Regions from separate parts of the Homo sapiens genome. Here region 2 is linked to region 1. Evidence: fine-mapped QTL for protein levels in blood plasma. Region 1 holds a variant in brackets. A gene starts in the other region. All regions are shown on their forward strands.

What was found. PIP is the posterior inclusion probability: the model's chance that the variant is causal. The UK Biobank Pharma Proteomics Project read protein levels with antibody pairs (Olink). The fine-mapping took linkage between variants from a reference panel, not from the people measured, so its PIPs are less certain.
Region 2: RNF43 starts here. The variant in region 1 is fine-mapped to the plasma level of the RNF43 protein (UK Biobank, PIP above 0.99).

The regions. Positions count from the first base shown.
Region 1 is chr22:22,364,922-22,373,263 of GRCh38, forward strand. It overlaps IGL, the pseudogene ASH2LP2 and IGLV7-46. Among named protein-coding and RNA genes, the nearest start is that of VPREB1, 120 kb to the left of the region's middle. The variant T/G (reference allele first, on the strand shown) is at 3,888.
Region 2 is chr17:58,412,596-58,420,937 of GRCh38, forward strand. RNF43 (ring finger protein 43) reads right to left here and starts at 4,939. Exons shown (of 10, transcript NM_017763.6): 1 at 4,422-4,939; 2 at 2,731-3,367. The coding sequence starts at 2,982. It overlaps HSF5 (heat shock transcription factor 5), which reads right to left. Exons shown (of 6, transcript NM_001080439.3): 6 at 7,572-8,342.

The sequences.
Region 1 (8,342 bases):
GTCATATGTAGAATACCCTTAAAAGTCCCACAAAAGAAAACTTTGTCAGAATGATTAAATGTATTCGGTAATATTTCTGAATACAAAAATCACCATGTAAAATTATCTCATGGCTGGGCATGGTGACTCATGCATATAATCCTAACACTTTGAGAGGCTGAGGTGGGAGGACTGCTTGTGGTCAAGAGTTCAAGAACAGCCTGGGCAACAAAGCAAGGCCCTGTCTCTACAAAAAGAGAGAGAGAGAGATGAAAGAAGAAAGGAAAGAAAGAAAGACAGAAAGAAAGGAGGAAGGAAAAGAAAGAAAGAAAGAAAGAAAGAAAAGAAAGAAGGAAGGAAGGAAGAAAGAAAGAAAGAAAGAAAGAAAGAAAGAAAGAAAGAAAGAAAGAAAGAAAGAAAATCTCTTACATTTCAATACTTGAGCAAATAGGAAACAACCCAAAACAAAATCGGGACCCACACCCATTAGGATGGCTTTACCCAAATAATGGAAAATAATAAGTTGTAGCAAAGATGTATAGAAATTATAACTGTAATGCATTGCTGGAGGGACTATAAAATGATGCATCCACTGAGGTGGCCTTGATGACAGTTGCTCAGAAAACTAAACATAGAATTACCATTTTATCAGAATTTTCACTTCTGGGCATGTGCCTCAAAGAATTGAAAGCAGGATCTCAAAATTGTCCACCCTTGTTCGTAGCAGCATCATTCACAATAGCTAAAAGGTGGAGGCAGCCCAAGTGTCATCTAATGGATAAACGGAATATAGTATACACACACAAGGGAATAGTATTCAACCTTAAAAAGAAAGTTCTGACCCATGCGATGGCATGGATGAACCCTAAAGACATCATGCCAACAGAAATAAGCTGGTTTCAAAAGGACAAATGTTGTCTGTTTGCTCTTATATGAGGTACCTAGAGTAGTGAAATCCATAGAGACAAGAAGTAGAATGATGTTTTCCAGGCATGAAATTTTGGTTTGGGAGGATGAAAAATTCCTGGAGACGAATGGTGGTACGTGACTGTACAACAATATTACTTTACTTAATGACACTGAAGCGTGTGGTTGAAAATGGTTAAAATATGTGTTTTGTGTTTGAATAATTTACCACTGTCAAAAACAAAAAGATTTATATTTGGTGCAGTTACAAGAACAATAAAAATATACAGGACTAGGAGAGTGTGCCTGAGTAGCCAGGACACCCTTCCTTCTGTGCCAGCCCCACAGCATCCTAACAGACCAATAGAGTTGGAGGTACCTCATTACAGGTGACACAAAATAACATGAGAAAGTCTGAGAATGGCCATGATGGTAGGGGTGGGTGCCTGACCCAGTCCAGGAGCAGCCTCTAGTGCAACTATGGCCAAAGAAGGGGAGATGAAGCTGGTGGCAATGGTAGCAGCCTCTCCAGCTGGAGAGGGACATCTGCTGTCCTATGAAAATGGCTCATAGTTGATATATCTGGCAAAGACATGTCATCCTGTCTACCTTTCATGACCAACTACAGTTTTCATAGTGCTTTGGTTAAGCTGGCATGGCAGTCCCAAACACAGGATGAATGCTATAGCATTTATTGATAAATACTGGGAGTGCATGATGACCATTCAGACACCTGGGAAAATGACTAGGCTGGATAACATCGTTAAAACAATGAGTAAAGAGAGAGATTTATTCTTGGTAAAGGACCTCCTGGATCCAGGGAGTAAAGACCTGAAAGAAGATTGCCCAAGATTTGGACTTTTGGATCAGGACTTTGGTAAAACTGATCCTGTTTATGACAAGCAAAAGCAAAGCAGTGCCCTGTCTGTGAGTGGGAATCTGAATGGGGCAACTGAACAGGAAGCAGCAGAAAAGAGGAAGAGGAGTTCAGTGCAAACAGCAAGATGAGATCTCAGAGACCACCAAGAAGGCCCAGAGTGACCCTTTGTTTTCTGCTCAGCGCCTTGCCCCTTACACCTTTTAAAACACCCATTTAACAAGGATGGCTACTGGTATATTCCAACCGAGCCTGAGCCACACACCCTTGGTCCTCAGAAGGTTGAAGACTGCTAGGCAGGAGAAATTATTCCTGAAGACCTCTACGGAGCCTGTTTCTGTGAACAGGTTTTGTTAGTCTAACATGATTAAGCTCTCCAGGTAAAGATCTCCAATGACCAGCTGGCTGACTGTGGTTGGAAAGAAGGGTTACTCTATGATGCAGGCCTCTCATGGGGTATGGAAAGGGACCTGGGACTTTGAAATCATCAAGGATGAGTTGTCACCAGACACCACTGCCAATGGGGTTGGTCTCAGTCCTAAGGTAACCATCAATCTCCCTTAGGTTATGATAAACTTAGCTATTCTTGGCAGAGCAAAAGGGAACCAAGTTCCACCTGTCCACTGGCAAATAATACTCTTCTAGCTACGGATGAGGACAGGTCTTGGGATTTTATATTAATCTTCCTGAAAACACAGAGACAGCCAAGTTATTGCCTGATACTTACAAAGATAAGGCTTTGATAAAATACAAGAATTATTTGTATTTTGAGGAAAAAGACATTTTGGATAAAGCACAGAAGAGCCTAAAACAGATTCTGCACAGGCAAATAATATTTTATAAAAATGGTGTCAATTAATATGTTGAATAAAAGGTATTTTTGAGGGGGTTGATTTCCAGCCATCTCACAGGAAAACAACTGCATGGTTTGCATTAACTTTGGACTGTGCTGCGAGTGTCCTCCAAAGGATCTCGCTTACTCCCTTATGAGTGACATGGGCTGGGATGCTGTGGTAGAGCACACTCTGGCTGATGTCTTGTATCTCCTGGAGACAGAAGTGGATGGAGGCACAGTCCTCCATGGGAACCCTGAACAGGTCCCTCTTTCTTTTCAAATATGGACTTTCTGGGGAATGATACTGGACGGCTTCTGTAGTTGTTGTTGTTTTTTGAACTGTCTCAAATGTTTTCCCAAAGATGCTACAGAACATAGCCTATCCATTTAGCAAGTGAAAAGGCTGAATAAGACTGGGAGAGACTCCCTGCTCATCATCATTCTTCTTCCACTTCCAGTGACTGCTCATATTCTGTGCCATAAGCCAACAGCTACTGATCCCAAGATCTTGTAATCCCTCTGTAAAACTGGTGCTGTACTGCATACCTTGCCAGCTGGGACTTTTTATCTTACTGCATTTTCCAGGAATAAATAACCTTGTCCCAAAAACAAACATATTTAAAGACATTTCCTTCTGTGGACACTGATTCCATGCTATCTGTTTTCCAAGGAAGTGGTGAGCCCGTTTCTGAGAACACCTGGTATCAATGGCTGTCCCTTCCAAACCAAGCAAAAAGTGATTTCTTGTCGGTGTGGATTTGGTTTTGTTATTAATTTTAAAACATACCTTTGAAGACTTAGATCTCTGAAACTACTAGATCTCTAGAAGTGTAATTGTGAAAAAAGTTTGCTTGCATCATCAACAACATGAAAAACTCTTTCTAAATAAAATTTGTTTTGAAGTTAAAAAAAAGAATAATGCAAGATTGGAAACTGGGAGGTCTGAAGATTCCCAAGAGCACTCTCAATTCTGAAGCTAATTTTCAGCTCAGGGACCCCAAACAGCCCTTCACTTCTTATGAGTCCCTAGAAGGACTCACATGACTCACTGAAAACTGTGACATTCATTAATGTGATTTTTCTACAGTGAAATAATACAGATTAAAATAATTCAAGGAAAGAGACACATGGGCAGAGTTCAGGAGAATTCCAAGCACAAGCATCCATTTGTCCTCTCCCAGTGGAGTAATAGACAACGCTGCATTCTGCCGGCAACAATGTGTGATTCTATGTAGGAAGCATTGCCAACCAGCAAAGCTCACCCAGGCTTGGTGTCCAGAAAAATTTTGA[T/G]TGGTGGGGTGGGTGAGAGTGGGGTTGTTATGTAGACCTTGATGACCATCCTCATGGCTCACTTGAGTTTCCACTGAATTGACAATAAAACTTCAATCTTCAACCTTTGGTCATTTTCTTTTAAAAAATTTTCTAAAGAAAATTATTTTAAAAAGTCTCATATAAACGAGCTGTTTATCCAATATGAGGCTCAACGCAAATAGTTTCAAAAAGTCAGTAGGTCATTAAAACAATTATTTAGTCATTCAAACTAAATATTTAGTCATTCAAACGTTGTTATCTGGTGTTCAGATAGCAACGAACACCATGTAGCACTAAAATCGCATTATAGTCACAGGGGCAGGATTTCAGCAACAGCAAGAGAAAGTAATACAAACAGGAATGAGCAAAGAATAGACAAGTAATGGGTATGAATTGGCCTGGGAAATATTGTGGCAATGTCCAAAGACAAATCAATAGTTATTTGTTAAAGAAGTGAAAGACAACACATTCTCAGTCCAGGAAAGCCACCAGGGGGTGGTCTGGGTCTCTTGGATTGTAAGAAGCTCAAGAGGTTCAAACTTAATGAACCCTGCACAGATGCTCACTGACTCATGGAAATGTTAGAGCAGCTGCTTCCTCCCACAGGACAAATCCACAGCACACAGCCACCCTGGGCTGGCCCCCCACAGTGTAGCTGCTCTCAGGGCTGTGGACCCAGGTGGTGATAAAGGCAGTAAAGATTTGCATAAAGCAGCACACAGCACACCCCCTCCGTGCGGAGAGCTCAATAGGAGATAAAGAGCCATCAGAATCCAGCCCCAGCTCTGGCACCAGGGGTCCCTTCCAATATCAGCACCATGGCCTGGACTCCTCTCTTTCTGTTCCTCCTCACTTGCTGCCCAGGTTAAGAGAGATTTCAAATACCAGCCTTTGGAGGGATCCCTTTTTCTCCCTTTCTAATTCCTAATATATGTCTGTTTTTTTTGTTTCAGGGTCCAATTCCCAGGCTGTGGTGACTCAGGAGCCCTCACTGACTGTGTCCCCAGGAGGGACAGTCACTCTCACCTGTGGCTCCAGCACTGGAGCTGTCACCAGTGGTCATTATCCCTACTGGTTCCAGCAGAAGCCTGGCCAAGCCCCCAGGACACTGATTTATGATACAAGCAACAAACACTCCTGGACACCTGCCCGGTTCTCAGGCTCCCTCCTTGGGGGCAAAGCTGCCCTGACCCTTTTGGGTGCGCAGCCTGAGGATGAGGCTGAGTATTACTGCTTGCTCTCCTATAGTGGTGCTCGGCACAGTGACAGACCCATGAGAGGAACCAAGACATAAACCTCCCTCGGCCCTTGTGATGTGGAGATCACATGATCAGACATGCCAGATCCCAAGATAGCCTACATGTGGACCAGCCATAGAAAGGGGAAGGAAAGGGTTTGAATTGATTCCTATTTCTACTTAAGTCTTGATGTGTAGGAAATGTAAGAATGATTTGGGAGTAACTGGATCAAAAAAAAAAAAGGAAAAGTTAATTGTTTTCTATTCTAAAAGGAACACTAACAGCAGGATCACATATAAAGGCTGGGTCAAAATGCATTTCCTCCAGAAAGAAGCATCTTCAGTGTATAGGCTTTCTGAGCTAAGAGCAAAGAAACTTTTTTTGCATATTACTGAAGTTTGTTTTATTGAGTTACTTTCAAACCAATACCTCCAGAAAGAAGCATCTTCAGTGTATAGGCTTTCTGAGCTAAGAGCAAAGAGAAGAAACTCTTTTTTTGTATATGACTAAAATTTGCTTTATTGATTTACTTTCAAACCAATACATGCCTATTATATAAAATAAAAATATTAAAAACCACCAAGTTCACTGCAAAGCTGTCTCATCAGAAACAATCCAATTTCTTCATTTGGATGCATTCTTTCATTTTTGTTCTCAATATTTCCACAATGGGGGTCATACCTTGTGCTTTTTCTCTCTGGTTTTACACATCTTTATGCCTCCTCCCACACCCTGTGCCTCTCTCCTGACTCTCAGGGTCCTGGGCAGTCAGGGCTCACTTGGTAGCCTGCACAGTCTGTCTGTGACAAAACCAGTCACCATCTCCTGCACTGGAATCAGCAGCAATAAGGTTCTTGGAATTGTGTCCTGGTACCAACAATGACAAGGAAGTGCCTCCAAACTTCTGATGTATAGAAGCAAATATCTGCCTGCAGGGACCCAGGATGGATGCTCGGGCTACCAGTTTGGCAAGGAGGCCTTCCCAAGCATCTCTGGGCTCCAGGCTGAGGACAACGCTGATCTCAACTGTTGGCTTCAGACAGCCCCCTGGAGGCCCAAACAGTGCTGCAGTCTGGGGGAGTGAGACAGGAACATGTCAGGTCTCCTAGGAGCACGACCTAACTACAGCACCATACAACCAGGACAGCAGGGCTGTTTACCATTTGTGTGCATGTTTGCTGGTGCTTCTGCTAACCAGGACCCAGGGCTCAGATTAGGGACAGTGATCTAGAGAATGCTGCTTTGTTTTCTCAGGGCCAGACTTCAGAGAGAGCCCTTGGCCACAGCATTGTCAGACTGCCTCAGAAGAATCAGAAAGTCCTTGATTTCTGGAACAGGCTGCCCTGGGAATACAGCCATGATAGGCCAGGGCAAGCAGGGACAGAATCCAGCTGGGTCTGTCTCAGGCATGTGCACTAATAAAGATCTCTGTTTGTCCTTATTGTTTACTGAATACCTACTATGTGCCAGGCTCAGGTCTCATGCTAAGGATACAGAGGTGAGAAGACAGACAGGGATTCTGTCTTCACAGGACTGACACCATGCAGAAAAGTGAGGGCCAACAAGTCAATAGGAGTAAGGCATATTGTGGTGTATCCAAGAGGTGACACTGGCCAGAAGGGGGAGAGCAATAGGAAGCCCTTAGGGAGTTGTAAGCAAGGAAGACACGGAGTCTGATGGGAGACTTAGGAGAAAAGTCCAGCTTCTCCAAAGAAGATGAAAAAGGAGGGGAGAGAGTGAAAGTGGAGGGTCTAATTAGGAGACGGTAGCTTTCTCCACATGAGAGATGAGGTCTCCAGCAAGTGATGAAGCAGCTGAGGTGGTGAAATATGCGTGACCCACACCATGGTGAGTAAGACCAAAGGAAAGAGGTCACTAGGTTGAGGCCCAAAGCTTGTTCCTGTGATATAAACCTGACAACATCCTCTTGCCGTTACTGAGTGTCTCACACACCTTTTTTCTTTGGATATCTCCTGGGACTCAGGACTCATTGCTGCCCTTCCCTCGTATTCAGTGAGATTCATTTCGAACATCACTTTTCACACCCAGAGAGAGACCTGGCTCCTTTGTATGGAGCAAAAGCACTGAGGGTCAGGACAGAACATTCTACAGAACATGGGATGATGCCTTACACACTAAAGGACTGCTGTTAAAGCTCGTGATCAAACCTCCCCGGAGCTACATCAGAAACCACGAGAGGGGAGGTGTCAGCGCTTAGGTGCCTGATTTCAGGGCACACTAATTTGCAGTTTGTCCAGCTCCCTCCCAGGCATTTTTATCCACCCTTCTCTTTACCTCCTTTCATCCTTGCCTCCTTCTCAGGGCGGGCCTCCAGGCCTGTGGTGTCTCTGCTGCTCTGTCTCCATCACAAACAGAGCAGTAGGGAGATTATCTGATAATGAAGTTCCCTCCTCATACTCAGTTATCTGGTTCCCCTTAGGAATTCTTCTGCATCATGGGAATGTTCTGTTTTATTTCTGCCCTACAGTAGGAACCCAGCCATTTGTGAGGCCAAGGAGATTGACCTCTTTCCGTTGAAGCAGGATTATATTTAACACATGTATTCAAATAACATCATCAACTTATGAACAAGTCAATCCATTCTTCAGAATTATAGAAATGCATGTCTCTCAGCTGTCAGCAATTGGCCTCAGATCCCTAGAGTGGCGAACTTGTCAGGGTGGGGTCAGCCACATGAAGATGTTTCTTTATAGTTAGTGACTCTATTCACTGGGTTTCCCCTGTTGAGATCCAACCTCCATGAGACTGTTTATTGTTGTTGTTGTTTTCTGTCTTGTCATTGCCCAAAATGCTGCCTGGCACTAAGGAAAGACTTAATACATGTTTATTAAATATGTGAGTTCACCTACATTGGAATCCCAAAAAGAGGTACAGATCTGAGGTCAAGTTAATAATTTTTAAAAAAATTCTGGATATTTTGTGTTTGAGATTCCAAGTTCATTCAATAGAAGATATTAAGTATGAAGTTTTGCCTTTGGATTTGGTTAGCAGGAGAAGGATATGGATATGAAAATACAAATGGATCACACATACCTCCCCATGGCCCAGAGTCTTGAGTGCCTAGCTGCTCTCTGCAGCTCCTAATCACAGCCTCTGTTCACTCATTTATGGTCTGATTCCCATGGATCCATACATGCTGGATCCCATGGGCTTATGTGGAGAAAGTGGAGAGAAG
Region 2 (8,342 bases), not on the chromosome of region 1:
TTTTAGAGGCAATTCTATGGTCTATTTTACTATTCAACAAATTGGGGGCACATTGTCAAGGGGGGGGGTCTCCTTTTGTCTAAGAAAAAATTAAAATCATAATACAAATGAAAATTCAGTCAGTTTGGTCCTTATGAAATTGTCTATACACTGAATTAATTGAGCAAAATGTAAAGAAATGTCTGATTTTCAGAAATTATCTCAGAATTCCAGAAATAACAACATGGTTTTTTTTTTTTTAAATCACTGTTCTCATAACTGTACATTTTTTGGTACATACATAGCATCCTCAAGTTTAAAAAGATTTGACTGCAATCTTTGGAGACAAATAATCTTAACAGGTAACTACAACAATTCATAGGTAGAAGGATTCACAGAATTATCCAGAATTCCTCAAAACCGAAGAGAAGACTACTTTTAGATTTCTGACACCAGGGTACAGCTCTCCATTGAGAAAGCTAAAGTTCAGCAAAGCACATCTCTAGAAGATATAAACAGAACTTCAGTTAAATGGAAGGCTTGGCTAACCACAGTTGAGTAAACCTGAGTTGCAGTGTAATCTGATAAGGAACAAACAGCATGGATTCCAGAAGTGTAAACCATGTGTCCCTAACACACTAGAGTTCTTTGAAAGAATTAATCAAAGAATGGATAAAGAAAACCATATATATAATTCAGAAGCTTGTTTTTTAAAAAAGTTTCTCACAAGAGGCTGTTGAAAAACTTTAATAACTGTTGTAGATTAAAAATTGATTAACAGACAATAAACCGAAACCAATATGGAAAGTATCCAGAAATGAATACTAAGCTAGTGAAAAAACTTATTTAAAGACCTAAACGAAGCATATGTGGACAGAAAGGAGATGACTAAAAATTGCCAATGACATAAAACTATCCACTGTAAAGGCTGAAAGTCTTTGCTAAGTTATGATGAAATTCCCTCTTCACAAAGTAAAAGCAATACTTAATGTATAATGATAGGATCAAAGTTAATAGTTTAAAAAACAAAATAGATTGGTAAGATTTGCCAGAGTGAGAAAAACGATAGAACAATAGAAGACATGATAAAGATTGATAAAATAATGAATGGCAAAGAGAATGCCAACTGGTGCTGTTTGTTTACTTTTTCCTTTATGAAAACACAAACTTTATGTAGAGCTTTATGATAATAAGATTAAAACTTAAAAGAATACATTATTTTATGGAACACATAATTAGCCCACTGAACATGCTATCACAGGTTATCAATAAGGCACGTATGGCTCTCAAAAACTTCAGTGATATCAAAATATGACTAGCAAAATTACTTACGGTCCTAAAATGGAGCACACAATTCATGCTTCAGGGTATTAACTAGGCAAGGCCAGGAAGGAAGTTTCCTTTCCAATTGCCATAGTATTCAAGATGATTTATGAGTTCAGCTTTTAAGTATTCCTAATTCCATTTTAGAATCCAAATTATCTTATTCAAAAAAATCTTATGCCATTTTTCCAGATATACTCTTCTTTCCTATTTTTCTAAATAGCAAAGCCTTCCATTTTCACCTAATTCTCCTTCACTTCATTTATCCCAGCTTCAAAATATTGCCTAAGAAGTGATAATGAATAACCACTAAACCATATATTAAAGAATACATGTTTAGGAATAAGTTCTATAATCTGTTAAATTTTCCTATCTTCTTTAAGTAGACAAAAATTAAAATTCATACAATAAATTGGTTCTGTTCATAGTCTGTTCATACCACAAAATTAAAATTTGAGTTTGGATGCTAAGATGGATCACACTTAAGAATATTTTAACCTGTGTCCAGTAGCTACAGCAAGAAGTGTTCTTTTACATGATAAATTTCAATCAATAAGCAACATCATTTTATGGAGTAAGACAATGGAATGCCCATTAAAAAGGTATAGCCCTCTAGGCTCTGTCTTTACTATGGGGAATGAGCAATTGGTCTATGAAATGCTGTGCCCCCAGTCATTTCATAAATTCACCACATAAAGAATAGGCCATGTATGAATGACTTACAGGCAAAATTCACAGCCTGAAAGCCTAAGAAACTATGTCTGAAAAACTTGGCGGATCAGTAAAAAACATGTTAAATTTAAATTCCTGAAAATGATAAAATTATGTGTGGACAAGGCCAAAGTGATCAGGAGGCAGGTTTACACCTTGTGTCCATTTTGTAATCCAGTCCTCTCCATTTTGGGGTTAGCAATAGGGTGCCACACGTGGTGTAAGGCCAGCCATAGCATTCAAGCTTGACTGAATTTTAAGTGACACAGTAATCAAATATGCTCCAAGGGCATTCCAGAATTTCAGGTGCTGCTGACCATTAAAATCAACCTTCTTAGTGCTTACTTCAATTTAAACAGGATGTAAAATACAATCCTCGCATCAATTAAATATAAGCTCATATATTTCATCTATCAAAAATTAGTGCCCAGAATATATCACTTGAAAAAAAGGTATTATTATGTCTATCTAAGTAGTTATGCAACACCAGTTTAAAATAAGCAGATAATCTTCTAAAATATAGGATTTATGTATTTCCTCCAGAGTATAAAATAATAATTTGCTAAATTTAGAATGCCAATAAGGCAGTATCTACTCTTTCTATGAAATAGAAAGCTAAGCAGTAGAAGCCCGTGTATGGTATTTCATTTGGGAGACAAAAGAAGAAAGACATATTTCAAACAGATGGAAAGTGAAATATAATAAAGTTATACTTGCCTGCATTAATTTTCCTTCTGCTGGAGTTATTTCAGCAACACCAGCAAACACACCTTCCAAAGTGAGATTCAGTTTTCCTGTGGGGTCCATTTTCAAGGGGATCACTCTGATAATAGCTTTCTGTTCTGCTGATCTTTCAGACTCCACCGCTGCTGCCAGTACCAGTCCTGTGCGTCCAAAGCCTGCCTGCAGGGTAGCCATCAGCAGCCAGGGCCAGAGGGCAGCCAGCTGCAGCTGGTGGCCACCACTCATGCTACCAGCTGCAGCAATGCACTTCAACCATACATACTGCTTCCACTAGCTAATACCAAATGCAGGTTCTCAGATCCAGACAAATGGAGGAAAAGAACATTTATGCTTCCGTTTCAGAAAGCCAAGTCGTAGTTTTGGCCCTTCCTTTCTCTAAAGTTTATTCCCAAAAACAGGTAGCATTCCTGATTGGGCAGAGAAGAGGATATTTTCAGCCCACATCTGCTGCAGGTATGTCATTTTCTCCCATCTTCACTGTGACTAGTAAAGATCTCACCACTTCTCTTTGGAATTTCCAACTTTGCTTGTGATTGAATGTCACTTCGTGAATTTGTATTATGTCAGATCACTTGGCATTGCTCTTCCATATGCATCAAGTTGCCAGGCACTAAACCCAATGTTCATGAACAAAACAAGGCAAAGTAAACAGCTAAGGCCATGCATCAAAGGTGAGCGTGAAGAACTCCAGCTCAGAAAAGGAAGGGATGGCCCTTTTTAAGCCATAATATGTGTTAATGGTAAATGACTAAATACCACAAGGAGATTTTTTTTTTAATGGAGGAGAAGAGGGAACAATAATAAAAATTTCAGGCCACACGTTGATGTCCAAAGATGCTACAATATGTATTTAGAAAAGTTTCCACATTAAACTGTATTTCAGTGTGGCCAGGTTTCTAGGCCCACTGCATTTACATACTTTTCATGAACTTAGACATACCATAATTTTTTGTGTTTTACCAAAATTTGCCTATAAATTAGGTGCTAATTTATGTATCTTCACACATTACAGGATAATCCTGAGCATCACAACCTTTTCCAACTTTCATAATTAGAGTATTTGAAAAGGTTAGCTTTCCAATTATTTTTCCCAGTTAAAATTCATATTTCCATCTCCATTTTCTTTTCTCTCTTAAGGATTCTTGATTTTATTCTCCAGCTCGGAAATGCCGAGCACTTTGATTTCCCATGAGATGCTTTTGGAAACTACTTTAATATCCAGATTTTATGATCTGTAATTTTCTAGGTTCATAAGAAAAACAAAGGACTATTCCTCACATGTATCCAAATTCCCTGAGGGGGTAGGGAATAAAAGGTAGGGGGAGCAGGGAGGCGATTAACCACAGGCTCTAGGTAGAATACCCTGAAAAAATACAAATAATCTTGAGTAGAATAGATCTGTGCTATTTCTAGGCACTATGAAAATTTGCGTCTTTGTACAAACACAGAATAAGATTTTTAAAATGTGCACCCTTAAGTAAATATAAATACACCTCACCCACAAAGCCCTCTGTGTTCCAAGGTCAAGTTTAAAAATATTATAAAGTCTTCAGAATAAGTGCTGAAAAGCCAAGCAATTGAACATGAACCTGTTATATGGATTCTTTTCTTTTGCTGAGGCAGAGGGAGGGGGGAAAAAGGAATTTCAAAAGAAATCTGCAAACCTGTTGCGCTGTCGGGCCCACTGGAATCCACGGGGGTGAAACAAATTCAATTATGCTTTTACAGATCCTGCTCAAAAAAGGTTTCAACTGCTTAACCAAGTACAGCTCATTCTTCCACCTTCTTACTCTGCAACCAAACCAAGTGCCCCATACTACAGGTAGGTGCCGAGAAATTCCGCAGCCTGAAAAAATAATCCATGCAGGTCAAAGGCAGAAATTTACTCCGGGATGAGAGATGCTGTCCCCTAGAACTAAATTAAACACTTACAGAAAATCCAAAATCATTTCTGAAACCTCCTTGCTAACAAAAGTTCTTTTTTTCTCCAAACAGCATATAAAATGATCAAGTCTTGAAAGAGAAAAGAAGCAAAGTAGCAAATACATCAACAATTCACTATCAGAAACACATAAAATCCCAGAGAGAGAGAAGGCAGTATCTCTGAATCATGGATGGACTTGGAAAGTTCGGAAGGATTCCGAGTGCTTCCTTTCAGAAAGACAATTCTGGATCAACTCCCTAGAGCAGGAAGCCTGTGGTTTGTAATTGGTGTTCTAGCTCTGACTCCCTCCCCTGGGACTGCAATCACGCTCTCTACCTGCTGACAAAGTGAGGGTGGAGCTGCTAGAGGCAACCACTCCCCACCCTGCCCCCCTCCTCCTGGTGCTCACACACAACACTTACTTAACCAGACCCGTTCTTTCGCTCTCCCCCCTCCCTCAGCTCCTCTACTCCCTCTACTGAGCCACAGCTAAACTGCATCCAATTCGATCCCGAGTACCTTTCTCTGGGTAAGCAAGCTACCACATGCAAATCAGGGCCACTCAAAGATATCTAAGCAGACTCTGCACCCAACAGAGCATAGATGATGGTATGAGGAAATAAACAGAAAAAAATAAAGGTAATCCGGAAGATAAAAGAATGGACACAAGGTTTTGCAAATATAAGTTCAAAAGGATTTCTGCTCATTCCAAGTTTGAGTGTCTATAAATGGCAGAAAGCCAGAATAAAGTGATCCTGTGTTTTAGTACTTACTGATTTATTGCTGCTTATGTCTGCTACCCTGGGAAGGGCTCTGTCCATTTTATGCTTAGCTTTTCTTCAGCTCTTACTAATTTAAATTCAGTAGCTCTGTCTAAACTGTGCCTATATGGAACTTTCAAATCAGGTTGATGTCAGATGTCTGGAATCCAACTGTTATTTTCTTTTCAATCTTTGGGAGGTGAAATAATACTATGGATCAGACCTATGCCTTCAATGTAAGACTCCAAATAAGTCCATGTCATAAATACAAGCCAAAGGGTAAAATATGATTAATGAGAAGAACATAGGCAAAAAGAAAATGAATTTCTGGCTAATTACCACATTCATGAACTATAATCCTTATTACTACCCTGCCATTAGAAATAATACAACAGTTTCTAATACATTTATAACATTTGAAGTTTCAAATTACCAGATTATATTTGACTGTGGTGAGACATTTTATTTCTGAACCGCTGCCATAAACTTTCAAAATTATACAAATGAACAACAATGTGGATATAGTTAAATCTAGTGAACTGTACACTTAAAAATGGTTATGATAGTAAATTTTATGTGTTTCTTACCTCATGTAAAAACGAATCTCTGATCATCTGTAAAATGCTGATGATAATAATTACGATAGGTCTGTTGTAAAGATTAAATGACATAATGCCTCTGAAAGCAAAAAGGATGAGTAGCCTATTGACCTTCAACATTGTTTCCCCTGTAGATAAGGTTTATGACAGTAGTTTCAGAATTTCAGATCTAATAACTAACCTAGATCAAAGACAAATTCGAAAATAAATTTTTTGTTTATTTTTGTTGTTTGAGACAGGGTCTTGTGTTACCCACGCTGGAGCACAGTTGTGCCATCATGGCTCACTGCAGCCTTGACCTTCATGGCCTCCCACCTCAGCCTCCAGAGTAGCTGGGATCACAGGTGCGTCCCACCACACCCTGCAAATTTTTTTTTTTTTTTTTTTGAGACGGAGTCCCGCTCTGTTGCCCAGGCTGGAGTGCAGTGGCGCTATCTCGGCTCACTGCAAGCTCCGCCTCCCGGTTCATGCCATTCTCCTGCCTCAGCCTCCCGAGTAGCTGGGATTACAGGCGCCCGCCACCACGCCCAGCTAATTTTTTGTATTTTTAGTAGAGACGGGGTTTCACCGTGTTAGCCAGGATGGTCTCCATCTCCTGACCTTGTGATCCACCCGCCTCGGTCTCCCAAAGTGCTGGGATTACAGGCGTGAGCCACTGCGCCTGGCCAACACCCTGCAAATTTAAAAAAAATTTTTGTTGGGCCAGGCGTGGTGACTCACGCCTATAATCCCAGCACTTTGGTTGACCAAGGTGGGTGGATCACGAGGTCGGGAATTTGAGACCAGCCTGACCAACATAGTTTAATTTAACATAGTTAAACTAAAAAATAACCTACAAATGGGCTTTGCCTCATCTATTCCTGCTTAAAACGTGCAAAGGAATGAAAAGACCTAGCCCTAGTAATTAATACACACACTTAATTGACAGAAAGAAGACAGTTACAAATGTGGTTGCCCTCTCTTGAGGAAACTCTGAGATTTGGAAATGATGATGATATGCATCATGAACCTGGAGACTTGGAGAAACTCAAGATCAAACCAAACAGCTCTATGTAGCTTAGTTCACTGTTTTAGATCACCAGAATTGCAAGAGCAATTATTCTTCAGCTTCAAAGTTTTGGAGTTACCCTCTAGGGTTGATATACTACTACATTTTCCTAGAGATGTCATAAAGATGCCATCACTATTGTAATGAAATGCCTAAGTCTCAATGACATCTACTAGCTAGTCTTATACATGAGATAGATCATCCTTCAGGATCTACTTTCACCTCTGGATTGATTAAATTTATCAAAGATCATTCATCCTTTTCCAAAAATGTAGGTTTCTGTAAAACATGTCTAAGAATTGTCCTTATCCCTAACGGCATTTAAAAAATTCCATTGCTATTCAAGTACAAATGAAAAAAAACTTTTAAAATTCAGATTATTTGAAAAATAAAGTAAATCTCATTTGAATTATACTATTAACTGTCATAATTATTGAATTTTCTATTAATCACCAAACAGTAAGAACAAGCAAGACAACAAGTCTAGTTGGAACACTCACTTTATTGTTGACTGATTGAAATTTATCAGTGCTTAAGGTGCTGAAATACTGAGGTACTAGTCAGGAACCTTGTTAGTTGACTAGTTGTGTCAGACCCTACTGGCTAATTCACAGGAAGACTTTATTATACCTCTTGCCATTTTGCCCAAGTCATTAATGACAGCTTTAGTTGATAGATACAAGGCGTGTAAGGATAGCAGGAGATCCAGCTCCTTGGTCTGCTGTATTCATATATAAAAATGTTTGGAAAGCTGATTAAGGCATTTCATTAATTAAGCCTTAAAACAACTGAAACCAAATCTATGCCAAGGTTCCTGCTTGACATGTGTTCCTCAAAAGATATTATCTCAACATCTATAAAGCTAAGAAAGCCATATTTAGGGGAAAATCTACACAGTATATTAGCTCTTCAACATGACAGAGAAAAAGCAAAGTTCCTTCATTTGGAAATTGGGTCTCCTCTTCACATACTCTGACAAAATATTATATAGTCTGGCCAAAAGATATAGGTGTCTTGATAATTTGCTCTTTTAAACCTTGCTAATAAAGATAAATAAATGCCCATCACATAGACATTAACTAGTCTAATCAGAGGGACCACACAGGTCGCTTTTCAGAACCTACTTTAATATCTAAACAGAGTCACTGCAGATCAATACAGAGCTCACCCTTTTCCAGAAAAGTAGATCTCTGTAATATTTCTAGGGTTTGACATCATTGGGAAGGCACAATGCAGTATAAGAAATGAACTGT